4 linked regions of the Homo sapiens genome follow. The protein of the gene in region 2 interacts with the protein of the main gene of each other region in a pairwise test. Each region holds a gene or a part of one and is shown on either strand. Other genes may lie near its edges.

Region 1 (7,024 bases), on a different chromosome or scaffold from region 2:
TATTGAATAAACGTCTTTGTAAGTAACTATGAATGTGGTTTTGTGCGTATGGGTGTAGGTGTGTAAGCAACTGGAGCTCAGATCTGTCTTAAAGTTTGCATAATTAATGTTTAGTATTTGGCTTTAATTAGTCTCTGTGCATTGTTAGCCTCGGCTTTCATCTGCTCTCAAATATCAAAGGAAGAATGAGTTCATTTTCCTTGAAGTTTATTGACTGTTACTGGTGGCAGAGCAAATTCCATAAACGAGCAGGTTCCATATGGAGCAAGTAGAAGGGGAGCTCTGAGTTGGTGAGGAAGGATGCGTGGAGTGGGGACTTGGAGTAAAGGATGGAAAGGTAGATCTCTCCTTTTTCCCTCCATTCCCATAAGGATACTGGATTAACAATGGGGGCTATCTGCTCAGCATTCCCTCTCCAAATTGGAGCCAGAGAGGGGAAATGATGCAAATCAGAGGAGGAAACACCTCACAGCTCCTCTGTTTCTCCATCCAAGGGGATGCCAATATCCACGTTGTAGTCTACAGGCTCCCCAGAGCTCAGCCAGGGAATAGGGGTTCGATTGAAAGAAGGCCTGTTGGAGAGGTTTTGGTTGTAGAGGACCAGGGGTTCACTCAGCAAGGGCCCCAGGTCAAACTTGGGCATCTGGAAGGTCATGCGTTTGGAGGCCTTCTCATATCCACCATAGGGCATTGCCGTCCTGAGAAGGGGACACATTATTTAATTAAGAATCAGAATAAAAGAAACAGAGCCTTATCATGAGATGCTACCCTCTTTGAGAATAGGGAAGTCTGTGAATTCTAGTTTGGGATTGCATCTGTACTCCTTCTTCTTCCTTAGCATCCCATTTTGCCTTCCTGGTTAGCTTGTTTCCCCAAAGCTAATAATGAGAAAAGGAGTCTAGTGTGTACTAGAGACTCTTGGATAGCTGTGACCCAGACCAGCATTTCAGAGAAAGTGACCCCAAATACTATAGACCCAAGGGCCTGAGGTCACCTTACATGACAATGTAGAAAGGCCAGGTGCGGTGCGGTGGCTCACGCCTGTAATCCCAGCATTTTGGGAGGCCAAGGTGGGTGGATCACTTGAGACCAGGAGTTTGAGACTAGCCTGGTCAACGTGGTGAAACGCCATCTCTACTAAAAATACAAACACCCCCCCCCCAAAAAAAAATTAGCTGGGCATGGTGGCGCACCCCTGTCATCCCAGCTACTCAGGTGGCTGAGGTATAGGAATTGCTTGAACCCAGGAGGTGGAGGTTGCAGTGAGCCGAGACTGCACCACTGCACTTCAGCCTGGGCAACAGAGCAAGACTCTGTCTCAAAAAAAAAAAAAAAAATTGCAATATAGAGACCCCCTCTCTCCAACCCTAGTGGACAGTGGATAGCCTGGCTAAGAGTAATTATTGTTGCCTGGAAAATCCAGGCTCCTTAGGACCAAATACAAGAGTACCTTTCTAGCTCTTCCCTATCCTTTCACACAGACCTCCTCTCCATGGGCTAGAGAAGCCTAATTCCAAAAGAACAGAGACTTAGAGCCATCTAAAGCAGGGTGGCCAGGCATGGTGGCTCACGCCTGTAATCCCAGCACTTTGGGAGCCCGAGGCGGGCAGATCACCTGAGGTCAGGAGTTTGAGACCAGCCTGGTCAACATGGTGAAACCCCATCTCTACTAAAAATACAAAAATTAGCTGGGCGTGGTGGCGGGTGCCTATAATGCCAGCTACTAGGGAGGCTGAGGCAGGAAAATCACTTGAACCCAGGAGGCGGAGGTTGCAGTGAGCTGAGATCATGCCACTGCACTCCAGCCTGGGCAACAAGAGCAAAACTGAGTCAAAGAAAAAGAAGGAAAGAAAGAAAAGAAAAAAGTATAAGGAAATAGAATCATATTACAGGGAGAATAATGGCATCCTAACCTTGAATGGAAGAGAGCCTCAAGAGGCCTTCAGACATGTAAAATGTTATTCGCATTTAACATTCAAAGCAGGCCGGGCACGGTGGCTCACCCCTGTAATCCCAGGTCTCAGGTAGGCAGAGGCGGGAGGATAGCTTGAGCCCAGGAGTTCGAGACCTGCCTGGGCGATATAGCGAGACCCCATTCTCCACAAAAAGGAAGCAAAAAAAAGACAAAAAATAAATAAGTGTAACGTTCAAAGCAACCCAGGCTCAGAGGTAGAGTGATTTTCCCATGCCTACACAGCTAATAAATGACCATTGAGCTAGAATTCAAATCCTGCCTCCCAGCAAATTTTTTCCTTCATCACACTGCTATGATGAAGCTGAGATAGAGTGAAAAGAGCAGGGCCTTTGATTAGGACCCCCATATCCCTGCCATCTCTCCTTAGCCTCCTTCTGAAACATTTGAATTAGTCTCCATCCTAACTAAAGACACAGTGCCTCACACTAGAATGCATCTGGTTCCTTCCTCACCACCCCTACCTGTTGAAGGACTTATATTTGGGAAGTTCAGCTTTGGCCCCATAGGCCAGCAGGTCAATGCCAAGTTCCATTTTTTGCTGGGGGTCAACCCCCATGGCTCGCTCCCATGGGGAAATATAGGTCTTGAACACAGTGATATGTTTTCCTTCTCCGCCTGCCTGGTCTCCTGGTAGCCATGGGAGAGAAAATTCAGTCAAATAATAGCATTTAGTAGCCAATGAAAGGTAATCCCACGCCCCTACACTAGGGAAATTGCAAGAGCCAGGGACTAAAGATATAATATCCTGGTAATTGTATAAGGTTTGTGGCATAATGATAGTCTGTGGGCAGATCTGTGACTGAATCCGAAAAGCCAGGAAAGTAACTGAAAAACAAGGCTTCTGGGTAGAATAGACACATCTCTATATACTCCTGGACCCAGGTAATTCACCAAGATATTTATGATATTTAAACTGATATTATTATATTTAATATTAAGATATTTAAACTGACCTCCTCTGCTCCCCACACTCAGCGTAGACATCATTCCTGGGACAACTCTGCTCTAGGGACCAAACACATTACTCTTGGGTGAGTGTACTTGCCTGATCCTGTCTCACCAACCCCTGCTGTGCCAGCAGCTCCTCCTCTGCCAGCCTGGCCCGCGGGACCACCTGTACCCCCAGCTCCAGACCCAGAGCCCAGATGGTGCTGCTGATCAGAGCCATACTGTCCGGCAGAGCCACTGCCCCCTGCCTGGCTGCCGCCTCTGCCGTTGCTCTTGCTGTATGAGAATCCCTGACCAGCTGTGCCCAGCTGTCCCCCCACTGTTGGAAGGAACTTCTGGAAGTGATCCTGAAAAGAAGACAAAGTGAGGGGAAGGTTAGCAATGGGTATGGAAAATATACAAAAACAGAGGTATGTTTAGCAAAGGCAGAAATAGTGGCTAACCAGAAGACCCTGAATTTTCTGATATTTCCCCCTCCAGTTGATGGGTAGTACATGGGCTGACTAAGAGAATTAAACTCTTCTTTTTGTTTGTTTGATTTTTTGTGGTTTTTTTTAGACAGAGTTTCGCCCTTGTTGCCCAGGCTGGAGTGTGATGGCACGATCTCGGCTCACCGCAACCTCAGCCTTCCAGGTTCAAGCAATTCCCAGCCTCAGCCTCCCGAGTAGCTGGGATTACAGGCATGCACCATCACACCCGGCTAATTTGATATATTTTTAGTAGAGGTGGGGTTTCTGCACGTTGGTCCGGCTGGTCTCAAACTCCGACCTCAGATGATCCACCCACCTCGGCCTCCCAAAGTGCCGGGATTACAGGCGTTAGCCACCGCACCCAGCCCGAATTAAACTCTTCTTAAGAGGTAGGACTCCCTTGGCTCGTTTCCTCCAGTTATACCTAGGGTAAGGGCAGCGTGTTCTCCACACTCCCCTTTCTCATCCTTAACAAGTCAAAAAAGACCAACACGCCTGCCCAGCTTTAAAAAAAAAAAATGAAAAAAAATTCTTTTGCTTTTTGAGACAGAATCTGGCTCTGTCACCCAGGTTGGAGTGCAGTGACACAATCTCGGCTCACTGCAACCTCCACCTCCCTGGCTCAGGCAATCCTCCCACCTCAGCCTCTCAAGTAGCTGGGACTACTGGCATGCTACCACACCCAGCTAAATTTTGTATTTTTTTTTTTCCTAGAGACAGGGTTTGCCATGTGCCCAGGCTGGTCTCAAACTCCTGGGCTCAAGTGATCCATCTGCCTCAGCCTCCCAAAGTGCTGAGATAACAGGCATGAGCTGTGTCCAGCCCCAACTAAAATTTGGGAGGATGGGGTTGCCATGGAGCACCCAGTCTTAATTACAAGGACTAGAGAAATTCTGCCCCCTCCCTTCCTCAGCTTGTCCAACAGTCAGAACTCTCTTCTCTCTCCTTCTTTCTCTTCCTCTCTCCTCTTGGTGCCTGTTGGACCTCACTGGTGACAGTGACACTGTAGCAGGTGGGGGGAAGTGTGGCCAAAAGGGCAACATTAGATGCAAACCCAAAGCCTAAAAATAACCCCACCAACTTCTTCAGGAGGCTCTCCTGGCCATCCCACCATGTACACCCCAATGCTCCACCCAGTGTAACCAGACCCAGGCAGAGAAGAGTGCTTTTGGCCTCCTAAAGTTAGATATGAGCAGCTCAGCACTTTTACTCTGCTCCTATATGAGGACCAATGACAGACACTTCTGCCCCCGGCCCCATGCAGGCATCTATTTCCACTCTCCCCCAGCCACTCAGAGAGGGTGGAGGAGGAAGAAAGGAAATGGAGAAGGCCCTTCTTCCTCAGCTATACCATCCTGTGCCTGGCCCCTCTCCAGTCTCCTCTTTCTTTGGAGAAGGAGCCTGACTAGAATATATCTTGAAGGACCGTTTCAGTCTCCACACCTGGGGCTTCTTAGGGAATAGACTGACCCTTTAAATGGAAGAATGGCTCAAATGGGAGGTGGCTGTAAAAACTCAATTAACTCTTTCTAGGGTTGCCAGATTTAGCAAATCAAATATAGGATACCACTTAAATTTGAATTTCAGATGCACAACAAATTTTTATTTTTTTTTTTTAGATGGGTTCTCTGTCACCCAGGCTGGAGTGCAGTGGTGTGAACATGGCTCATGTTCATGCATCCTCTACCTTCCAGGCTCAAGCCATCCTCCCACCTCACCCTCCAGAGTAGCTGGGATTACAGGTGTGCGCCACCAGACCCAGCTAACTTTTTAATTTTTTGTAGAAACAGAGTCTTGCCATGTTGCCCAGGCTGGTCTCCAACTCCTGGACTCAAGCAGTCCTCTTGCCTTGGCATCCCAAAGTGCTGGGATTACAGGTGTGAGCTACCACACTTGACCCAAATACTTTTTTAGTATAGATATGCCTCCAAATATTGCTTGGGACTTACTTATACTAAAAAAATTATTCATTTGCATCTGAAATTCAAATTTAAGTGGACATCCTGTATTTTTATTTTAATGTCCCAAATATTGCATGGGACATATTTAAAAAAGAATTCATTGTGCATCTGAAACTCAAATTTAATTGTATATTCTGTATTTTAAAATTTCAATTTTATTCTTTGCCTTATCTTCTTCCTTTTTTCTTTTTTCTTTCTTTTTTTTTTTTTTTTGAGACAGAGTTTCACTCTTGTTGCCCAGGCTGGAGTGCAGTGGCACAATCTGGGCTCACTGCAACTCCACCTCCTGGGTTCAAGTGATTCTCCTGCCTCAGCCTCCTGAGTACCTGGGATCACAGGAACCCACGACCACGCCCAGCTAATTTTTTGTATTTTTAGTAGAGATGGGGGTTTCACCATGTTGGCCAGGCTGGTCTCAAACTCCTGACCTCAGGTGACCCACCTGCCTCGGCCTCCCAAAGTGCTGGGATTACAGGTGTGAGCCACCATGCCTGGCTGCCTTATCTTCTTTCTAAAATTTTTTTAAATTTTTATCTTTATGTCCCAAATATTGCATGGAGCATACTTCACTAAAAAATTATTCATTGTGTATCTCAACTTCAAAATACAAGACTGGACTGCCCCACTGGGCATCCTGTGTTTTATCTGGCAATCTATCTTTAACACTTACCTTTACTGGGAAGGAATTTTCTCCCTAAGGGTGTGGTATTCTCCAACCCTTCAGTGGCTCTATGATGAAAACTGGGTTTCAGAGGTGGGCTGTAACTCACCCTGGAGCTGTTGCGGGCTCAATATATCTGGGGGTTTAACAAATTTATAAATTTTCAGGGAGGGGATGTTGACTGCATTTTGGAGGTTCAGGGCCTACTAACAAGCTGTCAGAACAGGCACCAGGCTTTGAGATAGTGATAAAGTTCCAGACTCACCATTGAGCTGTCAGAGAAAACATCAGGGTGGTTCTCATAAATAAACTTCTCCACCCTCATCTGCCGCAGTTTGAACATCTTGGAGCCCCGGTTGGTAAGCAGCGACAGTTCCTCCAACATCACATCCCTTGGGACACTGATCTTTTTGCCCAGGTTCAAGCCTGAGCTCTCCTGTCCACCTTTCAGGGAGGCAAAGAAGAAGAATCAAGGGAAAGAGGAAAGTAGGGTTTTCTGGGCTCAGAATGCAGACCTCATCCACAACTAAGTGTGTATGTGTGTCCTGGCAGAGGTCATTTAGGGGAACAAATGCTGTCTAGTTTGTGAGGGATTTTGATTTCCTGGGACTTGGAGAGAATGCATGGGAACTGGGGTGCACTGTGGAGATAATGGGAATACTAGAGTGGAGAGGCCAATGGGGTAAAAGAGGTACGGGCATGGGGTACAGAGCAAAAGGAGTAAAGGAACATCATAGATGGAGGCCATTGGAGAAACCATGGCATCAGGAAAAACCCAGAGGCCAATCTTGTGTGGAGTCCAAATACAGATGCCATATATATATATATATATATATTTGTTTTTATTTTTTATTCTTTTTTTTCATTTTTTTGAGACAGAGTCCTGCTCTATCATCCAGGCTGGAGTGGAATGGCGCGATCTCAGCTCACTGCAGCCTCCGCCTCCCAGGTTCAAGCAATTCTCCTGCCTCAGCCTCCCAGGTCGCTGGGATTGCAGGCCTGCACCACC
Region 2 (7,024 bases):
AGAGGCTGAGCCTGGGGCCGGCTGTGGGAAGCAGCAGGAGACCCCTTCGGAGAGGAAGCCTGACCCCACAGCCCCCAGCACTGCGGGCTCTGGTCACTGAGGAGTTAAGCCCGGCCCCCACCCCGTGGGCCTAGAAGAGGCCTGCCCGGCCCCAGCCTCCTCCCTCAAGTTGGCCATGTCCCCACAGGCAGGGAAGGTCGGGGGCGGTTGAAAAAAGGGCCCTTTGAGGGAAGAGGGAGGTGGGGCGGGGTAACCCAGGACACAGAACCCTAACTTTGCCACTCTGTGCCTCAGTGTCCCCACTGGTCACACGGGTACATAGCCAGGCCCTCCATCCCCGAGCCTGGAGGAGGCTGGCCAAGGATGCCGGACTCCGTGGAGGGACCCCTCACCCTCCACGTCCTGCTCTGCAGAGGGGGTGCTGCCGGCTATCTTTCCTGACTTGGGGGGCTGGAGTGCACAGGAGGCTTCAACACGATGGGGCTCGCAGGCCCCTGGCAGTGCCAGCACTGCTCCAGGCTTCTGGACACCCAGGCAAGGAGGTGCCCTTTGGTGGTCAGGAACAGGGACCAGAGGCCTGGGCCTGGCTGTGCCAGGAGGGCAGTGCTCATGGGGAACTCTCTGGCCTGGGCACAGGGGCCTGGGCAGCTAGGAGGGGCAGCTGGAAGACCCTCTGGCCCACATTCTGCCAAGGGGCTGGGGTGGTGCCCAGATTCCACCTGAAAACAGCCACCATTCGGGAAGGGGGTGCGAGCAAACCCGGCTGGCCCAGAACCGCCCTCTCGTCAGCCTGGCAGGTGGTCCCAGTCCTCACCCACCTGCCTGACTCCCACTCCCAGCTCCAAATGACTCCAGGTTAGGCCTAGCCTCTCCATAAGACAGGCCTGCAGAGCCCACTGAGGCCTGGGCCCCAAGCATGTGGGGTCCAGAGAGATGTCCAGGTGCCCTCAAGATGGCTCAGATCTATTCTCCTGAAGACAGTGGCCACCAGAGAAGGCCAGCGACTTTCTGAGGCCACACAGCCGCCAGGCAGGGCTAACTGCTGTACGCTGGCTTTGTGCTGCGTGGCTGCTTGGGGTGAGGACTGATTTGCCTACCAGGCTTGGCAGGCTTTTTTTTTTTTTTGAGATGGAGTCTCACACTCTCACCCAGGCTGGAGTGCAGTGGCACGATCTCCGCTCACTGCAAGCTCTGCCTCCTGGGTTCACGCCATTCTCCTGCCTCAGCCTCCCGAGTAGCTGGGACTACAGGTGCCTGCCACCACGCCTGGCTAATTTTTTGTATTTTTAGTAGAGATGGGGTTTCACCATATTAGCCAGGATGGTGTTGCTCTCCTGACCCCATGATCTGCCCGCCTCGGCCTCCCAAAGTGCTGGGATTACAGGTGTGAGCCACTGCGCCTTGCCGGCAGGCTTTCTTTTAAAATTGCTCTGCGTGTCACTTAAAAAAAATTGTTTTCATTGTTACAAGGACAAAAGAGACCAGGTGCGAAAGTGGCCAAGACTGTAATCCCAGCACTTTGGGAGATTGAGGCAGGTGCACTGCTTGAGCTCAGGAGTTTACGACCAGCCTGGGCAACACAGCAAGATTCCATCTCTACGAAACATTAAAAAATTAGTTGGGGCCGGGCGTGGTGGCTCACGCCTGTAATCCCAGCACTTTGGGAGGCCGAGGCAAGCGGATCACGAGGTCAGGAGCTTAAGACCATCCTGGCTAACAAGGTGAAACCCCGTCTCTACTGAAAATACAAAAAATTAGCCGGGCATGGTGGCACATGCCTGTAGTCCCAGCTACTCAGGAGGCTGAGGCAGAAGAATCGCTTGAACCCAGGAGGTAGAGGTTTCAGTGAGCCGAGATCGTGCCATTGCACTCCAGCCTGGGCAACAGAGTGAGACTCTGTCTCAAAAAAAAAAAAAAAAAAAAAAAAAAAAATTAGTTGGGTGTGGTGGTGAACACATGTGGTCCCAAGCTACTCAGGAGGCTGAGGCAGGAGGATGGCTTGAGCCCGAGTTAGAGGCTACAGTGAGCCACGATCCCACCACTGCACTGTAGCCTGGGCGATACACCGAGACACTTTTTTTTTTGAGGTGGAGTCTCGCTCTGCAGCCCAGGCTGGAGTGCAGCGATGCAGTCTCAGCTCACTGCAACCTCTACCTCCCAGAGACCCTGACTCTCTAAAAAAAAAAGAAAAAGAAAAAGAAAAAAGATTAAACGGGGCCTCACCAACGTGAGGTCAGACCGCCGCCGCCCGTCTTCCTCCCACAGCAACTGCCTCCACGACCCTGGCCGTCCGTGACCCGCCAGGTCCCGCAGCACCCTCGGCCCCGCTGAGGCAACGAGAAGGGGCTGCTTAGACCACAGCTCCCTCTGTGCTCCTCTCACCCCTCCCGGCCTCTGTGCTGTCCCGGAATGAGGCTCCAGCTCTTCTGCTGCTTAGACCCCTGTGGGCTGGAGCACCTGGGGCCAGCAACACGAGGTGTGACCCCACAGGCCTCCGCACAGCAGCTCCCACTGCCAAGTGCCCCCTCTGCCATCCGTATCCTCCAGAGACCTCCCCAGCCACAGCCGGGGGGCCATGGACCCCCAGAGTGACAGGCGGCCCCTGATCGATCTCCTCCGGGTGCAGGGCCCCCCGCTTCACCCAGCACAGGGCGGGTTTCCAGGGTGGACTTGGCACCCCTCGGCCGAGGTGGCCTGAGCTGCTCACCCAGTGCCTTGCACAGCTCCGGGTGCTTTACCCCAATGGTCTTCAGCCTCTGCAGCAGCTCCGATGAGGTCAGCTGCCGCACCAGGTACAGGGCCACCGAGTAGCTCTGGGGACAGAAGGAAGGGGTCAGGGCTGGCAGGACGGGGCCGGGGTTGGGGGGCAGGGTGGGCACCCGGGCACGCACTCACCTTGCCGTAGTTCCCCCAGGTGACAGTGATGCGGTTGGTGGCCGAGGACAGGTACATGAGGTGGGTGAGGTTGATGGGGCGGCACGGCCTCTTGGGCTCCACCCCGGGCTTATTGGAGGGGTAGTAGCCCTGCAAGCAGATGGGCCGCTCAGCCTCGAGCCAAGAGCGGCTGGGAAATCCGACGGCCCCCACCCTCCCTCCACGCCCCCCAAACCCGTGCAGCCGACGCGGGGGCGGGGCATGCTCACCGGGACGGAGCAGTAGCTGTGGTTGACCTTCACAGCGATGTTGGGCGGGTACTGGTCCTCCTGAGGGCAGCTGGTGTCTGAGTAACAGATTCTGCAACGACAACAGGGACCATGGGGCGGGGAGGGGGCGCACAGGAGGGACTAGGCTGCTGCGGGGGTACACGAGTGGTAGCCAGGCGGCAGTGATGGGGGCACCGGAGAATGTGACACGGGGGGTATCAGGGCCCCCGGGTGTGGCCTGAGTGGGGGTCGGATGGTGATGTATCCCCAGACAGGGATAGACAGCAGGTGAGGAGAGCTGGGCTCTGCTGTTAGCAGGGGAGACTGAGAAGGGCCTGGGCCAGGACTGGGGGGCGGGGAGGGGCGGGTGGCTGGGGGTCCAGCCCTGGGGTCGCGGGCACACCTGGGCATACCTCAGGACGACCTGCACGGCTTTAACTCCGGGCTGCAGTTCCCTGTGGGTGTGGAGCAAACCAGAGGAAAGGAAAGGAGAGCTGAGTGAGGAGGGCGTGACCCCAGCCCACCCGACAAGGTGGAGACCGCCACACCACAAGGCTCCCTCCCCCAGAGCTGGGAAACTGAGGCCCAGGACTCTTTTGTACGGGCTGGGTGAGAGGAGTGGCTGTGAGGTCAGGAGAGGGGCTGGCCTCCCTGGAAAATGCAACAGAATCCACAGCAAAACCCTGAACCAGAGAGGGCAGCCAGGTGCCTCTCCCTGCGAAGAAACATAGCTAAAACGTGCATGCGGGAATCTAGCAGCTGGCTCACAATGGCAAGAAAACACCCAGTTTGGGAGGTCAAGGCTGGCGGAGCTCTTGAGCCCAGGAATTTGAGACGAGCCTGCGCAACATGGTGAAACTGTCTCCACAAAAAATTACCCAGGCGTGGTGGTGCACACCTGTGGTCCCAGCTGCTTGGAGGCTGAGGCAGGGGGATCGTCTGAACCCATGGAGGCACAGGCTGCAAGCTATGATTGCACCACTGCACTCCAGCCTGGGTAACAAAGAGAAACACTCTCCAAAAAAAAAAAAACAAAAACCAGTAACACCTGAGGATAAACTTTAACAAGAAACGCCCCCAGAAGAAGAGGAAAAAGTCTATCTACCCAAAGACGCATCCGTGGATGTTCACAGCAGAACTGACCACAACAGCCACAAACTAGCAGCATCCTGAGTGTCCTTCCGTAGACCGAAGGACCAACACGCACGGGACGCGACCCAGCCATGGAAAGGAGCCAGGCTCAGACCCAGGCCTCAGCACAGGTGCACCGTGAGGATGTCCCACCCAGTGAGAGACGCCAGACACGAAAGGACACACAAGGCAGGTGGCTCACGCCAGTAACCCTGGCACTTTGGGAGGCGGAGGTGGGTGGGTCACTTGAGGTCAGGAGTTCGAGACAAGCCTGGGCAATATGGTGAAACCTCGTCTCTACTAAAAATACAAAAATTAGGCCAGGTGCAGTGGCTCACGCCTGTAATCCCAGCACTTTGGGAGGCCGAGGCGGGCGGATAACAAGGTCAGGAGATCGAGACCCTCCTGGCTATCATGGTGAAACCCCGTCTCTACTAAAAATACAAAAAAAAAAATCAGCCAGGCGTGGTGGCGGGTGCCTGTAGTCCCAGCTACTTGGGAGGCTGAGGCAGGAGAATGGCGTGAACCCAGGAGGCAGAGCTTGCAGTGAGCCAAGATCGTGCCACTGCACTCCAGCCTGGGCCTCGGAGTGTGACTCTGTCTCAAAAAAAATACAAATATTAGCTGAGTGTGGTGGTGCACGCCTGTAATCCTAGCTAGTCAGAAGTCTGGGGCAAGAGAATCACTTGAACCTGGGAGGCGGAGATTGCAGTGAACTGAGATCGCGACACTGCACTCCAGCCTGGGCGACAGAGTGAGATTCTGTCTTAAATAATAATAATAAACGAAAGCCACATAGTATGTGATTCCACTTCTATGAAATGTCCAGGACAGACCCATTTACAGACAGGAGGGGATGCGTGGGGGCCAGTGGATGAAGGGTGGCAGCTGCTGGGGATGGACATGACTGCCCTGAGACTAGGCAGTGGTGGGAGCTGCGATACCTACTGATCCACGAGAACCCACTCGATGACACCCTTAAAAACTGTATATTCTATGGTATGCAAATCATATCTCGACATAAGAAAAAGAAATGTGGGATGGGCAGGGTGGCTCACGCCTGTAATCCCAGCACTTTGGGAGGCAGATGTGGGGTGGATCACGAGGTCAAGAGATTGAGATCATCTTGGCCAACATGGTGAAACCCTGTCTCTACTAAAAATACAAAAATTAGCCAGGCGTGGTGGTGCGCACCTGTAGTCCCAGCTACTCGGGAGGCTGAGTCAGGAGAATCGCTTGAACCTGGGAGGCAGAAGTTGCAGTGAGCCGACATCACGCCACTGCACTCCAGCCTGGCGACAGAGCGACTTCATTTCAAAAAAAAAAAAGAAAAAGAAAAAGAAATGTCCAGAAGCTTTCTGAGGAGAAAACCAAACTTTTTTTTTTTTTTTTTTTTGAGACGGAGTCTCCCTTTGTTGCCCAGGCTGGAGTGCAGTGGCAGGATCTCGGCTCACTGCAAGCTCCGCCTCCCGGGTTCACGCCATTCTCCTGCCTCAGCCTCCCGAGTAGCTGGGACTACAGGCGCCCGTCACCACACCCGGCTAATTTTTTTGTATGTTTGGTAGAGACGGGGTTTCACTGTGTTAGCCAAGATGGTCTCGATCTTCTGACCTCGTGATCCACCTGCCTTGGCCTCCCAAAGGGCTGCGATTACAGTTGTGAGCCACCGTGCCCAGCCCAAACTGATTTTTTTATACTGTGTGGCTGGCTCTGAGCACTCTGCAGCAGGGACCCAGTGCAGGTGGAGGCTGTGCTGACCCAGGTACATAGACAAGGAAGACGAGGCTGAGAAAGACGAGGTCGCCACCTTGGGTCACCCAGGCAGAGAGGCCTCCATGGCCAAGCCTGGCTCGGCTGGATCTGAACCCTTACTAGGTGTGAGGGCCAGGCTGGGAGGCCCCAGGAACCTGGCCCCACAGCAGGTGGGGGCGGTGGGTCTGAAGCGGCTGGGCACGAGAAGCTAGGCATTAAATGGGGGCGCCCGGCCCAGCCCTGCCATGGACTCAGGGGTGACCTGGGCAAATGGCCTCCCCTGTCCTAAGGGCCCAGCACCTACCATTAGCCTGCCCAGCAGGAATCTGTCTCAGCTGGAGGCAGTACAGCCTCGGAGAGACTGAGGGAGGAGCAGAGCGCAGGGCAGCCACACTGGCCCCTCACCTGCCACAGTTCAACCGTCCTCATCTGAGGACGACCCTGCCCCAGGCGACACCGAGCTGTGTCTGGGGACATCTGTGGTTGTCAGAGTTAGGGGTGTTCCTGGCACAGAGCAGGTGGAGGCCAGGGATGCTGCTCAGCAGCCTGCAGTGCCCAGGACGGCCCCACCGAGGGAACCATCCCACCTCACTATCCACGGTATGGAGGGGGAAACCCCGTATTCATTATATAACTGGGAAAAAACCTGACTTCCGCCAGGCGCAGTGGCTCACGCCTGTAATCCCAGCATTCTGGGAGGCTGAGGTGGGTGAATCACCTGAGTCAGGAATTCGAGACCAGCCTGATCAACATGGCAAAACCCTATCTCTACTAAAAATACAAGATTAGCCGGGCGTGGTAGTGAGCGCCTGTAATCCCAGCTACTTGGGAGGCTGAGGCAGGAGAATTGCTTGAATCCAGCAGGTGGAGGTTGCAGGAAGCCAAAATCGCGCCACTGCACTCCAGCCTGGAAGCCTGGATAACAAGAGCTACACTCAGTCTCAAAAAAAAAAAACAAAAAAACACCTGACTTAACTTCCTGCTCATGCTGGACACCA
Region 3 (7,341 bases), on a different chromosome or scaffold from region 2:
TGGGGCTGGGCGTGGTGGCTCATGCCTGTAATCCCAACACTTTGGGAGCCAGAGGTGGGTGGATCACCTGAGGTCAGGAGTTCGAGACTAACCTGGCCAACATGGTGAAACCCTGTCTCTATCAAAAATACAAAAATTAGCCGGACATGGTAGCAGGCACCTGTAATCCCAGCTACTCAGGAGGCTGAGGCATGAGAATCACTTGAACCCGGGAAGTGGAGGTTGCAGCTGAGCTGAGATTGTCCTATTGCACTTCAGCAGGCAACAAGAGTAAAACTCTGTCTCAAAAAACAAAAACAAAAAAGAAATGGTGACCTGGGCAAAGTTTACCCAAAGGACATTAGTCTGAGAATACCTTCCGAATTGTACAGTCTCTGGAGCTGGTTGTAGGACACACTTACTGGCTCTTGGTTGCTGGAGTGATTTCTCTGGTTAATTCTGATAACAAATAAGACTCTCGGATGCTAACTAGTTGCACAACCCCTCAACAGTTGGCATCCCTACCTTCCTAGAGGGATAAGTTGTGTTCGGTCACCAGAGATTCAGCAATAATAGGTTTGTGATGCCCTTAGACATCCGAGGCTACACATCCATCCTTTTCTTTTCTTTTTTTTTTTTTTTTGAGACAGAGACTTTTTTTTTTTTTTCTCTGTCGCCCAGGCTGGAGTGCCATGGCACGAACTCGGCTCACTGCAACCTCTGCCTCCCAAGTTCAAGCGATTCTCCTGCCTTGGCCTCCCAAGTAGCTGGGATTACAGGCACCTGCCACCACACCCAGCTAATTTTTTGCATTTTTAGTAGTCGGGGTTTCACCATTTTGGCCAGGCTGGTCTTGAACTCCTGATCTCAGGTGATCCACCCACCTCAGCCTCCCAAAGTTGCTGGGATTACAGGCCTGAGCCACCGCGCCCAGCCTACATCCATCCTTTTTATATCGACTTTGCCTCTTATAGACAAACAATATTCAAAATACTAGACAAGAAAACACCATAGGAATGAGTGTAGAAGGACAGAAAACAATTGCACCAAGGACAAAATAAATATTTGATCAGATAACCAAAAATCCAGTGTGGGGGCCTTATTCCAGGAGTAAAAAAACTGAAAAACCAAATAAACCCAATGCTTGGCAGGGCATGGTGGCTCACATCTATAATCCCAGCACTTTGGGAAGCCAAGGTGGGAGGATTGCTTTGAGCTCAGGAGTTTGAGACCAGCCTGGGTAACAGAGTGAAACCCTATCTCTACAAAAAAATATATATATAAAACTTAACCGGCATTCCTGGGTGTGGTGGCTCATGCCTGTAATCCCAGAACTTTGGGAGGCCAAGGTGAGCAGATCATGGGGTCAGGAGTTTGAGACCAGCCTGACCAACATGGAGAAACCCCATCTTTGCTAAAAATACAAAACTTAGCCAGGTGTGGTGGCGCATGCCTGTAACCCTAGCTACTCAGAAGGCTGAGGCAGGAGAATTGCTTGAACCCGGGAGGCAGAGCTTGCAGGGAGCAGAGATAGCGCCACTGCACTCCACTCTGGGAGACAGAGCGAGACTCTGTCCCCCGCCAAAAAAAAAAAAAAAAATTAACCGGCATTGGTTAATTTTAGTGCCAGCTACTCAGGAGGCTGAAACTGGAGAATCACTTGAGCTGGGAAGCAGAGGTTGCAGTGAGCTGAGTCGTACCACTGCACTCCAGCCTGGTCAACAGAGTGAGACCCTATCTCAAAAAGTAAAAAATGAAAAATAAAAAATATGGCCAGGCATGGTGGCTCACGCCTGTAATCCTAGCACTTTGGGAGGCCGAGGCGGGTGGATCACCTGAGGTCAGGAGTTTGAGACCAGCCTGACAAACATGGAGAAACTGTCTCTACTACAAATATAAAATTAGCCAGGTGTGGTGGTGCATGCCTGTAATCCCAGCTACTCAAGAGGCTGAGGCAGAAGAACTGCTTGAACCCAGGAGGCGGAGGTTGCGGTGAGCCGAGATCGTGTCATTGCACTTCAGCCTGGGCAACAAGAGTGAAACTCTGTCTCAAAAATTAATTAATTAATTAATTAAAATAAAAAGTAAACCCAATGCTTAAGGGTATCAACACAATATCAGAACTCAATTAGCTTCCAACCATCAGCAGGTTGGCACCTCAGCGACATAAGCAGTTTCAGGTGTGCATACAATGACGAGTCAAGGGTCCCAGTCCCAGGCAGTGAGGGCTTCAGCTGAATCTTTGTTGCTCCTCCATTTCTGATAGTACCCTCCAACCAAGGACCACCAGGAAGCACCTGTAGTTGAACAAGGGAGGCTGAACACCACAGACATCTCAGCAAGAACATGTGTGAAAGGACTTATTACAGGATTGGAACTTTCATTAGGGGACTTCCTAGGCGGGTCCAAAAAGGGGGGCATTTGCTCTGGGTTGGATGCTATCAGGAAGTAGGGATAATTCTTTTTGGTTATCTTAATAATTCTTATCTAGAAGATGGGAGGAATGAATCAAGCTAAAACTGTACTTGGTAAAGAAGCAGCAGTGGCCAGGTGCAGTGGCTCACACCTGTAGTCCCAGCACTTTGGGAGGCCAAGGTGGGCATATCACCGGAGGTCAAGAGTTCAAGACTCACCTGGGCAACTTGGTGAATCCCCGTCTCTACTAAAAATACAGAAATGATCTGGGCATGATGGTGGGTGCCTGTAATCCCAGATACTCTGGAAGCTGAGGCAGGAGAATCGCTTGAACCTGGAGGTGGAGGTTGTGGTAAGCCAAGATTGCATCACTGCACTCCAGCCTGGGTAACAGAGCAAGACTTCATTTCAAAAACAAAACAAAACAAACAAAAACAACAACCAAAAAAAAAGCAGCAGTAACTTACGCTGTGGGAGAGAGGATTGTGTTGGTAATTTTTGTGGTTTGGACAATGTTCTTGTTTCTGTATTGAGGCTTTATTATGGAATGGTCTTTTTCTAGATCAGTCAGAGAGTGACCTTGTCTGATGTTTTTTGTGAAATTATTTTGCTCAACAGGACACCACCATGGCCGTGCTGTTGGTGCCAGGTCAGCTCCTAGCAACATCAAGGCTTCTGGAGTGAGGGTGCAAACCAGCTCCCAGCTGGCAGCAGTTGCTTTTCTCTTTTACACCGCCACACTCGAAATCAGAAAATTGGCAACCCCTTTGGTAGAACATGAGCTCCCGGTCACTACAGGCCCATTTATACCCAGTAACAGGCCCAGGTCACACATTTACACTCCGACCTTCCTCCTGCGTGTGCATCCCTTACACCAACCACGCCCAGAGAAAAGTCACTCGTCTAGCATCTCCCAGGGACCTGCTGGCAGGGCTGAAGATAGAACTCTGACTCTGTGTTTTCCCTCCAGCAACCCCCCTTGCTAGACATTAAGACAGATTGTTAAATCCCTGATGTATCGGCTTCTAAACTGGATGCAGATCGGGTCAGATAAAAACACTTCTCAGTGCACCTTCTTGTCAACAGTGGGTTCCTATCTATTCTTCTTTCTTTTGGGATTGGGTGCTAGGTCCCACGACATTAGCTGGGATTCTAAGACCTTTGCTCAGCTGCTGCGGCCACCACTGACACGCCCTCTGCTCCTCAAATACGGAGAACAGTTCAGTGTTCCTGCCTGAGGATCTCTGCATTTGCCTTCCCTCTGCCTGGAACTCTTCCCTCACATCCGCTTCCCAGCTTCAGCTCGGCATCACCTCCTCAGAGAGGCCTTCCATCCTTGGTGCCCGGGCACCACTGCTACCCGTTTTGGCCTCTGTTTTTTTTTTTTTTTTCAAAGGACGTTATGTTGCCCAGGCTAGAGTGCAACGGTCCGATCACGGATTACTGCAGCTTCCAACTCCTGGCTTCAAGCGCTCCTTCTGCCTCGGCCTCCCGAGTAGCTAGGCTTACAGGCTGGGGTTACAGGTGTGAGCCACAGCGCCCGGCCGCTTTGGCCTCCTTTAAGAGCTTCCCTCCGCGCTTTGTTCGCAGTTCTGGTCACAGTCTGTTCAGTGCGCGGGGCTGGGAGGCGGGAAACTGCCCAATGCCCAGACCTCTCTGTCTGTTTCCCCTCAAGCTCGTGAAGCTCTCTGACAGCAGAGACCCAATCACGAGGTGGAGACTTCGCTTTCCACATCGGGCAGGGGGTCGGCCGCATCCTCGATCTGGTCCTGGTGACTCGAGACCAGAGAGGAGCGCACGTCGACCCGCCCGGGGAACCCGCAGGCCACACGCCAAACCTCTACGGGATCCCCCAGCGAGGCCACTGCGCATGCTCCATACTCGCAGCCCCGCCCCCATTCAGGGGCGGGGCCGCGCCTGCGCAGCTGCCCGGCGCCGGCTTCCGGGTGGTGCGAGCGAGATGGGGCGGAGGGCCGGTCTTGCAGAGTAGCTGCGGTGAGTGGGCGTGTGCGCCGAGCGGTCTGGCCCAAGGGCTGGGGGCCGGCCGAGGGTCTTCGGGAGCAGGCCGCAGGGCGCGGAGAGATCCTGGGATCGCCGTCCGCCGCTGCTACCCGGCATGTCGGCGGAGGCCTCGGGCCCGGCTGCCGCCGCGGCCCCGTCCCTGGAAGCCCCCAAGCCCTCGGGTCTCGAGCCTGGCCCCGCCGCCTACGGTCTCAAGCCGCTGACCCCGAACAGCAAATACGTGAAGCTGAACGTGGGCGGCTCGTTGCACTACACCACGCTGCGCACCCTCACGGGACAGGACACCATGCTCAAAGCCATGTTCAGCGGCCGCGTGGAGGTGCTGACCGATGCCGGAGGTACGAGCGGCGCCCCTACCGTGCCCCCACCCCAGACCCCCAACTCCCGTTCCCCGCAGTCTCTCACCACCGGGGCTCCTCATGCCCCTTCTCTCTGCCCGCTACTGTCCAGTCAACTCATTCTCAGCTCCCTCCAGCCCCCACATCCCATCTCCTCCCCTTTCTCATTCATAATTTCTCTTCTCCTCCCCCAATCCTTTACCCCCAGCAATAACCAACACTTACGGAACCCCTAACTGCCAGGCGCTGTGGTAAGTGATTGAACGTGTCAGTTCATAATCCTCATGACCACCTCTCCCACCCTTCACCCCTCAGCTCAAGACTTGGGAACTAGCCCTGCTGCCTGCAGTACTACTCCTGGCAGCCTTCCTCAGTTTCTTCCGACTGCCCAGCCTTTTGTTTCCCTCTCTGCTTCAGAACTGCTCACAGCCAGCCAGGAGAGCTGGGAGATCTTGTTTGCCTCTGTGTTCCCCTGACACAGGTCCCTGTACACTCTAGGAATCCACCTGTATACACACATTGCAGAAGGAGGCTGCTTTGGGTTTGCCAGGGACACCAGAGTGGAGGGTGGACAGGTCTCCTTGGCAGGTGAACCTTACCTTCTTGGAGTGTTGCATTCAAGTATGGACCCTTCGTGCCCAAGTGAGACTTTGAAGTTTTGGAGTTTGGGAGTGGGAGAGTCTTAAGGGAGGGGTTAACGAGGACTGTGAGAGCAGGAGAATAAAAATTTGAGAGGCGGAGATCTGCCTTCAAGTATCAAAGGTGAAGAATTCGGCCAGGTGCGGTGGCTCACGCCTTTAATCCCAGCACTTTGGGAGGCCGAGGCGGTGGATCACCTGAGGTCAGGAGTTCGAGACCAGCCTGACCAATATGGCGAAACCCCGTCTCTACTAAAAATACAAAAATTAGCCGGGCGTGGTGGTGTGCGCCTGTAGCCCAGCTACTCGGGAGGCTGAGACAGGAGAATCGCTTGAACCTGGGAGGCGGAGGTTGCAGTGAGCCGAGACAGCGCCACTGCACTCCAGCCTGGGCGACAGAGAGAGACTGTCTCAAAAAAAAAAAAAAAAAAGGGAAGAATTCATTTGTCCAATAAGTATTTGTAAAATATCAGTTAGTGCTGGAGATAGGTAAATGAACCTGACAAAATTATGGAAATTCCCTTTTTTTAGGGAAGTGGGAGATCAGAAGACCAATAAGCAAGTAAACAAAATGTATATGCATATGCAATTGCAGATAGTAGTAAGTTCTTTCTTTTTTCTTTTTTTGATAGTAAGCTCTATGAAGAATATAAAAGTTAAAATGGCAGTGAACTGGACGGGGGGAGGTAGACATTTTAATTAAATAGGATGGTGAGAATTAACTTCGGGGGTTAACAGTTTATTGATAAGGTAATTCTGCAAGAACTTTCTCATGGTGAGAGCCTTCTGACTGTAGACCAGATATGGATGAGTTAATTATCTGGTTGAATATGTATAAAAACTTAAGGGAGAACTCGCTGGAGATGTTTTAAAGAGATTTCTTGGCTGTGGCACAGGTTTGAGACAGATCAGTATTCAGACTTTTTTGTGGCTTTGGAATCCTTTTTCTTTTCTTTTCTTTTCTTTTCTTTTTTTTTGAGATGGAGTTTCACTCTTGTTGCCCAGGCTGGAGTGCAATGGCACGATCTCGGCTCACCGCAACCCCCACCTCCCGGATTCAAGCAATTCTCCTGCCTCAGCCTCCTGAGTAGCTGGGATTACAGGCATGCGCCACCATGCCCGGCTAATTTTGTGTTTTTAGTAAAGACGGGATTTCTCCATGTTGGTCAGGCTGGTCTCGAACTCTTGACCTCAGGTGATCCGCCCACCTCGGCCTCCCAAAGTGCTGGGATTACAGGCGTCAGTCACCGTGCCCGGCCTTCTTTTCTTTACTTTTCTTTTTTTATTTTTTTGTTTTGAGACGGAGTTTCCCTCTTATTACCCAGGCTGGAGTGCAATGGCGCGATCTCGGCTCACTGCAAACTCCACCTCCCGGCTTCAAGCGATTCTCCTGCCTCGCCCCCCCCCGAGTAGCTGGCACCAGCCACCAAGCCCAGCTAATTTTGTATTTTTAGTAGAGATGGGGTTTCTCCGTGTTGGTCCTGCTAGTCTCAAACTCCTGACCTCAGGTGATCTGCCTGCCTCAGCCTCCTAAGGTGCTGGGATTATAGGCATGAGCCACCGCGCCTGGCTGGAATCCTTTTTTCTTATAATTTAGGCCAGGTTTGGTGGCTCACACCTATAATCCAAGTACTTGGGAGGCCGAGATGGGAGGATCACTTGAGCCCAGGAGTTCAAGACCAGCCTGGGCAACATAGTGAGACTCCATCTCTACAAAAATTTTTTTTTAATTTAGTAGCTCCAGGTCCCGCAGCAAAGCCATCTTTCCCCCTGCCTCTCCCCACCCCACTAGGTTGGGTGCTGATTGACCGGAGCGGCCGTCACTTTGGTACAATCCTCAATTACCTGCGGGATGGGTCTGTGCCACTGCCGGAGAGTACGAGAGAACTGGGGGAGCTGCTGGGCGAAGCACGCTACTACCTGGTGCAGGGCCTGATTGAGGACTGCCA
Region 4 (7,024 bases), on a different chromosome or scaffold from region 2:
TCTCTTTCAGCAGAATCCCAATAAAAGTAAAATGTAACTTACATCAGCATTCTTCTGACACATACTGCACTTAGTTGAAATGCTTTTGGTATATATGGTAACAACAGGTTTTTTCTTTAGCTCATAAGATGACAAGCATGATTGGCTGCAGAAATCTTTGCTAGGATAGGAATTCTCAAAGCGAGTTGTGATCACATCCTTAGGATTTAAAATGTCTCTAAAAATAAATAACAAAGGTAAAAATGAAATGTATTCTTCACAACTGTAACTTCCTCCTCTTTGTGAGGTGAAATAACACTTACTAAGGGCAGGTACTGTATGGTAGAAAAAGGATAAGGAATCTGCAAACCTGGGTTTGATGAGTTCTGCTATTTATCAGGTGAGTGACAATGAATGATGTAATTACTATCTCAATTTCTTCATGTATAAAATGGGGCTTATAATATCTAATTCATAAATTTGTCAAGAGTGAATTATATTTAAAATATAGCCAGCCAGGGCCAGGTGCGGTGGTTCATGCATGTAATCCCATCACTTTGGGAGGCCGAGGTGGGCGGATCATGAGGTCAGGAGTTCGAGACCAGCCTGGCCAACATGGTGAAACCTCGTCTCTACTAAAAATACAAAAACTAGATGGGCGTGGTGGTGGGCGCCTGTAATCCCAGCTACTCGGGAGGCTGAGGCAGGAGAATCACTTGAACCCGGGAGGTGGAGGTTGCAGTGAGCCGAGATTGTGCCACTGCACCCCAGCCTTGGCAACAGAGCTAGACTCCATCTCAAAAAAAAAAAAAAAAAAAAATATATATATATATATATGTGGCCAGCCAGATGCTGAAGACAAAAATAGGAAGGCTTCCAGCCCCAACCAAGTTTCATCTGCTATAGCCAATGGGACCAGTGTCCATCCCACAACTCCAGACCACAAGACACTGGTTCTCTCATTAGCCAGAGGCTGCCCAAAGTAGAACTGAAATGAGACAATAAATGAATTTTTTCTTTCTTTTTTTTTTTTTTTTTTGTGAGACGGAGTCTCGCTCTGCTGCCCAGGCTGGAGTGCAGTGTCACGATCTCGGCTCACTGCAATCTCCACCTCCTGGGTTCAAGCGATCCTCCTGTCTCAGCCTCCGGTTCGAGTAGCTGGGACACCAGCACGTGCCACCATGCCAGGCTAATTTTTGTATTTTTAGTACAGACGGGGTTTCGCCATATTGGCCACGCTGGTCTCAAATTCCTGACCTCGCGATCCGCCTGCGTCAGCCTCCCAAAGTGTTGGGATTACAGGCATAAGCCACCGTGTCCAGCCAAGACAATAAATGAATGTTTAAAAATTAAAAGTGCAAGATTTTGAGAAACAAATGAGCTAACAGAAGACAAAAAATAAGCATGATATATGACAAAAGGGCTGTTAAGGCTTTGTATCAGAGGACAGATGGAAACAAGAACGAGACAGGAAGAACAAAAATAATTGGGTGGTTCTGTGAGACTCCTAGAGCCAATTTGTAAGAGCTAATTATTGCAATAAGCACAAATAGCAATACCCTGGTAAAACAGAGGTTAAGTATTGCCATTCTTCTGACAAGTATAAAAACTAAAGGAAATAGTCACTAATTATAAACACTAGTGCAGGCCACAAAGTAAATAATAATGGCAATAATATATACTACAATAAGTGTGTTGAGTAATTACTATGTGCCAAGCATTATTCTCTTTACTCAAATTACCCAATTTAAATACCACAAAAATGATGGAGTGCAGTGGCTCACCCCCATAATCCTAGCACTTTGGAAGGCCAAGGCAGAAGGATTGCTTGAGCCCAGGGAGTTCAAGACTCCAGTGAGCCATGATCATGCCACTGCACTCCAGCCTGGGCAACAGAGCAAGACCCGATCTCTATAAAAAAAATTTTTTAATTAGCAGGGCATGCTGGCTCATGCCCATGGTCTCAGTTACTCAGGATGCTGAGGTGGGAGGATTGCTTGAGCCCGGGAGGTAGAGGCTGCAGTGAGCTGGGATCACGCCACTGCACTCCAGCCTGGGTGACAGAGTGAGACCGTGTCTCAAAAAAAAAAAAAAATCCCCAAACCACTATAAGGTTAAGTATTACTGTAACTGCCACTTTACAGATGAGGAAACTGAATGAGAGGTTAAATAGCTTGTCAAAGTCATATTGCTAGTAGGCAATAAAGCTGAAATACTAATCCAGGCAATCTGATTCTAGTCTATGGAATTAATTATTCCACTATCCTGCCTCCCATCCTGCACCTTTATTATACAGGTATATTCAATGGTAAACCATGAGAAAATAACAACAACAAAAATTATTTTAATTCTTTAAAACTCAACTTTAAAAATATGACAGCAAATCTTAGAAACCAAAAGAATATGCTTATACACAGATGAAGTATTAATTTTGAAAAGTGATTTTTCTACTGAAAACAGAGCAATAAAGAGTTTCACTTAATAAGGTGAATCTGCCAGTGGCATAATAAGTACAAAAATAGCAAGTAAAAATATGTAAATCAAAGAGAATGACTTTATAATGAAAATCTGTGCACATAAATTATAAGTGTACTCTGAACCTTACACATGCAAATGAGTGTTATATCGTAACATTTACCGTAGAAAAACCACACCTTCCAACAATAACATAGCTCAAAACATTTTTCTAATTTTTTTAAGATAAAACTTAAGATAAACCCTTAGACTATTTTTTAACTTTTAATTTTATAAATATCATGTTTTAACAGTATGACTTAATTTAATTAGCTAATATATTGGCCTGATTAAGGTATCAAGCAGCCTTTGAAAATTTGTAAAAATCAAATGCATGCTGAAAAGATAAGAATCTGTCTCCTAACCTTATGCTAAAAAGTCACTGACGGGGGTGACTACTTTTAAGAAAACAATAGGCATTTGGATGTATAAGTTGTGTTATGTTCTTTAAAATTATTTAATTTTATTTTGGTATTTGGTATGTTGAAACAATATCTAAAAATAGAAAACTAAGTTTACTCTTTCAGATTAGTTTCATGAGAATGACATAAAAGCATTAATTAGAATGGTATTTTGCAACAAACTAATTTAGAGTATATAAATATTTTAAAATTCCTCTCTCCTGGCCACATGTGATGGCTCACACCAATAGTCCCAGCACTTTAGGAGGCTGAGGCAGGCTAATTGCTTGAGCCCAGGAGTTTGAGACCAGCCTGGGCAACATAGCAAAACCATCTCTACAAAAAAATACAAAAATTAGTCGGGCATGGTGGTATGCGCCTGTGGTCCCAGCTATTTGAAAGGCTGAGGTGGGAGGATCATCTGAGCCCGGGGAGTTCAAGGCTGCAGTGAGCTGTGATCACTCTACCATGGGCAACAAAGAAAAAAAAAAATCCTCTCTCCTCTTTACTTGGAAATTTCCATATAGCAGGATCTACTTTTAAATAGTTTAAGTCAAGACACAAAGCAGATAAACACAGCCAAAGACAAAATAGGGGCCTACAAGTGATATGTTAAGTATACATAGTAATATGTATTATATACACATATATTTATTATATTTATTTATGTTAATTATAAATAATCGCACGATATAATTTTTATTATTAATAATAACAGGATTCCATTTTTTAAGTACTTGCTATGTGCTAGGCCATTTGCTAACACTGTCTCATTAAAGTCCTAGGAAGCAACTATTATTTACTGATGAGAAATGGAGGCTTAGAAAGTTAAACATCTAGCCCGAAGTCACAGAGATAAATGACAGAGCCACAATTTAAAAGCAAGCTCTTACTGTTTTTTGCCTGTAGTGACTATTAACAACACACTGTATTCCTCAAATTACACTACCACAGAAATAGGCAAAATATGCCAAATCCTTCAAATGTACTAAGTCAGGGAAAGATTTATGTGACTTTGTTGCTGTTTTTTCCTCTCTCTGCATCTAAGCATTATTGTAAAGCAACAATGACCCCACAAGGACATTAGAAATAAACACATTTTTGCGACCATGTAGAGTTTTTACTTTTTAAAGAATTAAATAGCTTTTGTATACTATTAAAAGAGTGATATTATTTTATGCTATACCCAATAGCTTTCAAGATAACTGTTAAATAAATTTAAATGGTGGGTGTCTACAATTACAGGATAGTCCTGCAATTCCCACATGTCATTTGTTATTTCTTTCCATAGTAAAATTTAAAGTGATAGAAAACTGGTTTAGGCAATATTCTAACACCAAGTCACTTATTTAATGTTGCAAAACTTTAAAATTGGTGAATTCTTCCATTAACTAAAAAGTTATTTCTACAGATACATGCTGAAGAGATTTAAAGTATCAACAGTATGTTTGAACTAAACAATATACACACTAAAAAAAAGGTAAAGTAAAAAGGGATGTTAAGAATTTTATACTTCGAGCAGTTTGTGCAGGTTTTCTTGGGAGGAGGTGGCAGGCAGGCAGGTGAAGAATGTCTGGTGATGCATCGTGTGGAGCAGAAGAGCTGAGTAGATCCTGTCTTATGATATGCAGTTTGGCCCTTATAAAGCATTTTTTTACAACCAGAACAAAAAACCTTAATAGCAACAGCTGGAACTGAAGGAAGCAACACACTTGGGCCAGATGATGCAAAAGAAAGCTGAAAGCCTGGGTTCAACTGCTGGGCTATCAAAACAAAATAAAAAAAGTTTTAGTATCAATACTAATGCATATACAGTCTCAGTCTCTCTCTCTCTCTCTCTTTTTTCTTTTTCTGAGACACGGTCTCACTGTCACCCAGGCTGGAGTGCAGTGGTGCAATCAAGGCTCACTGAAGCCTCAAACTCCCAGGATTAACCAGTCCTCCCGCCTCAGCCTCTTGAGTAGCTAGGACTACAGGCACATGCCACCACACCCAGCTAATTTTTTTTTAATTTTTAGCAAAGATAAGGTATGTTGCCCAGACTGGTCTCAAACACCTGAGCTCAAGCGATCCTCCTGCCTCAGCCTCCCAAGTTGCTGAGATTACAGGTGTTAGCCACTAAACCCAGCCCAGTCTCTCTTTTTCAGGACAAATTCCCAATCTTGAAATCCAGTTAATGAGGCAATAAGAGCTCTAAAACAGAGGTTTCAATTTTTTTTTAACCATTACTCAACGCAAGAAATACATTTAATATTATAACCCAGTTCTCACATACATATGTTTGTAAACGTGGGGATGTATGTACAATTTAATCACTGAAACAGAAGTTTTATGAAACAATATGTTTCCTTACTACACATATCATATTCTGATATAATCTTACTCTATTTTTTAAAACGCTGCTGAAAACCAGCTACTCACAGTTTGAAAAAACACAGCTCTAAAGAAAGAGAAAGACATACATGAAAAGATGCTTTCCCTCAATTTTAAAAGTCAGAATAAGCAAATTAATTGTAACTAACTTATACAGTTCCATTTCTTACCAATAGGTCTCTCATTAACTGAAGACACACCACCAATTTTCAATTTACTTTCTTGAGTTTTTGGCTGTTGGACACATCCATACTCCTTTAAAAAAAAAAAGAAAAGAGAAAAGAGCAATGAATACAATGTATGTAAGTAAACTAGAAATTCAAGCAAAAAAAAATTATTCTATCCTATTCATCTCCTTTTTTTTTTTTTTTTTTTTTTGAGATGGAGTCTCACTTGGGTGCCCAGGCTGAAGTGCAGTGGCGCGATCTCAGCTCGTTGCAACCTCTGCCTCCCAGGTTCAAGCGATTCTTCTGCCTCAGCCACCCGAGTAGCTGGGACTACAGGTATGTGCTACCACACCCAACTATTTTTTGTATTTTTAGTAGAGACAGGGTTTCACCACATTGGCCAGGCTGGTCTCGAACTCCTGACCTTGTGATCTACCCACCTCAGCCTCCCAAAGTGCTGGGATTACAGGCGTGAGCCACCACACCCGGCCCTATTCATCTCTTAAACAGTCTAATCATAAATACCTTCACAAGCACCTCAAAAGTCAAAATTTACAAGTTATTACACTAATCTTTACAAAGACAATCTTTCAGAATTAGAGAATCTTTTAAAATACTTTTATCTACTTTTCAAATGAAATTTTGATATATGGGAGTAATACATAGCTATTCCAAATGCTGAGCACTACCTATTTTTTAGGTAGTGTGTTTAAAAGGGGGTAATAAATGAAAAAAAAAATTTTTTTTTTTTTTTGACATGGAGTCTCATTCTGTCACCCAGGCTGGAGTTTCATTCTGTCACCCAGGCTGGAGTGCAATGGCGTGATCTTGGCTTACTGCAACCTCCAACACCCAGGTTCAAGCGATTCTCCTGCCTCAGCCTCCCAAGTAGCTGGGAATACAGGCTTGCGCTACCACACCCGGCGAATTTTTGTGTTTTTTTCCAGTAGAGAAGGGGTTTTGCTATGTTAGCCAGGCTGGTCTGGAACTCCTGACCTCAGGTGATCCGCCCACTTTGGCCTCCCAAAGTGCTGGGATTACAGGTGTGAGCCACTGCACCCGGCAAAAAGGAGCAATAAATGAAATTAAATCTGGCTGGGCGTGGTGGCTCACACCTATAGTCCCAGCTACCCAGGAGGCTGAGGCAGGAGAATCACTTGAACCCGGGAGGAGGAGGCTGCAGTAAGCCAAGATTGTGCCACTGCACTCCAGCCTGGGCAACAGAGCGAGCCTCTGCCTCAAAAAAAAAAAGAAAAAGAAAAAAAGAAAAGTTAAATCTGAATGATTTAGAGTTTGGATTTCAATCATTTTAGATTTACAAGCTGCCTTTTCTGTTAATGGCAGAAAAGATACAAGAGTGTCAATGCAATCTGCTCATTATACATAAAATCATCACAGACAAAATCCTATTTATTCTTACCACATTCTTTAAAACGTTTTAAAACAAAATGTAATCATGAAACATTTTTAAAATGTAAATGCCTATCTTTATTCTGAAATTGCAACCATCCTTTTTTTTAATGTTAAAATACCCTTACATATTTCAAAACAGGAAGTTTTTTAAAAAGTCTTACTTTTCTGAATCAATGA

The links.
Region 1: the proteins of PIAS4 (region 2) and MYOZ1 interact in binary tests that used the Homo sapiens proteins (3 or more experiments, as listed by UniProt).
Region 3: the proteins of PIAS4 (region 2) and KCTD13 interact in binary tests that used the Homo sapiens proteins (3 or more experiments, as listed by UniProt).
Region 4: the proteins of PIAS4 (region 2) and ZMYM6 interact in binary tests that used the Homo sapiens proteins (3 or more experiments, as listed by UniProt).

The regions. Positions count from the first base shown.
Region 1 is NC_000010.11:73,631,464-73,638,487, forward strand, and holds the end of MYOZ1 (myozenin-1), read right to left. Parts: intron 6,460-7,024; coding exon 6,281-6,459; intron 3,271-6,280; coding exon 3,021-3,270; intron 2,603-3,020; coding exon 2,437-2,602; intron 699-2,436; coding exon 467-698; 3' UTR 149-466; downstream 1-148. UniProt on the Homo sapiens protein: Myozenins may serve as intracellular binding proteins involved in linking Z-disk proteins such as alpha-actinin, gamma-filamin, TCAP/telethonin, LDB3/ZASP and localizing calcineurin signaling to the sarcomere.
Region 2 is NC_000019.10:4,024,720-4,031,743, reverse strand, and holds part of PIAS4 (E3 SUMO-protein ligase PIAS4), read right to left. Parts: intron 3,599-7,024; coding exon 3,557-3,598; exon of another isoform or gene 3,555-3,556; coding exon of another isoform or gene 3,547-3,554; intron 3,235-3,546; coding exon 3,144-3,234; intron 3,025-3,143; coding exon 2,896-3,024; intron 2,814-2,895; coding exon 2,708-2,813; intron 1-2,707.
Region 3 is NC_000016.10:29,923,203-29,930,543, reverse strand, and holds the start of KCTD13 (BTB/POZ domain-containing adapter for CUL3-mediated RhoA degradation protein 1), read left to right. Parts: upstream 1-4,317; 5' UTR 4,318-4,510; coding exon 4,511-4,754; intron 4,755-7,184; coding exon 7,185-7,341. UniProt on the Homo sapiens protein: Substrate-specific adapter of a BCR (BTB-CUL3-RBX1) E3 ubiquitin-protein ligase complex required for synaptic transmission.
Region 4 is NC_000001.11:35,014,946-35,021,969, forward strand, and holds part of ZMYM6 (zinc finger MYM-type protein 6), read right to left. Parts: intron 5,523-7,024; coding exon 5,438-5,522; intron 4,658-5,437; coding exon 4,408-4,657; intron 218-4,407; coding exon 43-217; intron 1-42. UniProt on the Homo sapiens protein: Plays a role in the regulation of cell morphology and cytoskeletal organization.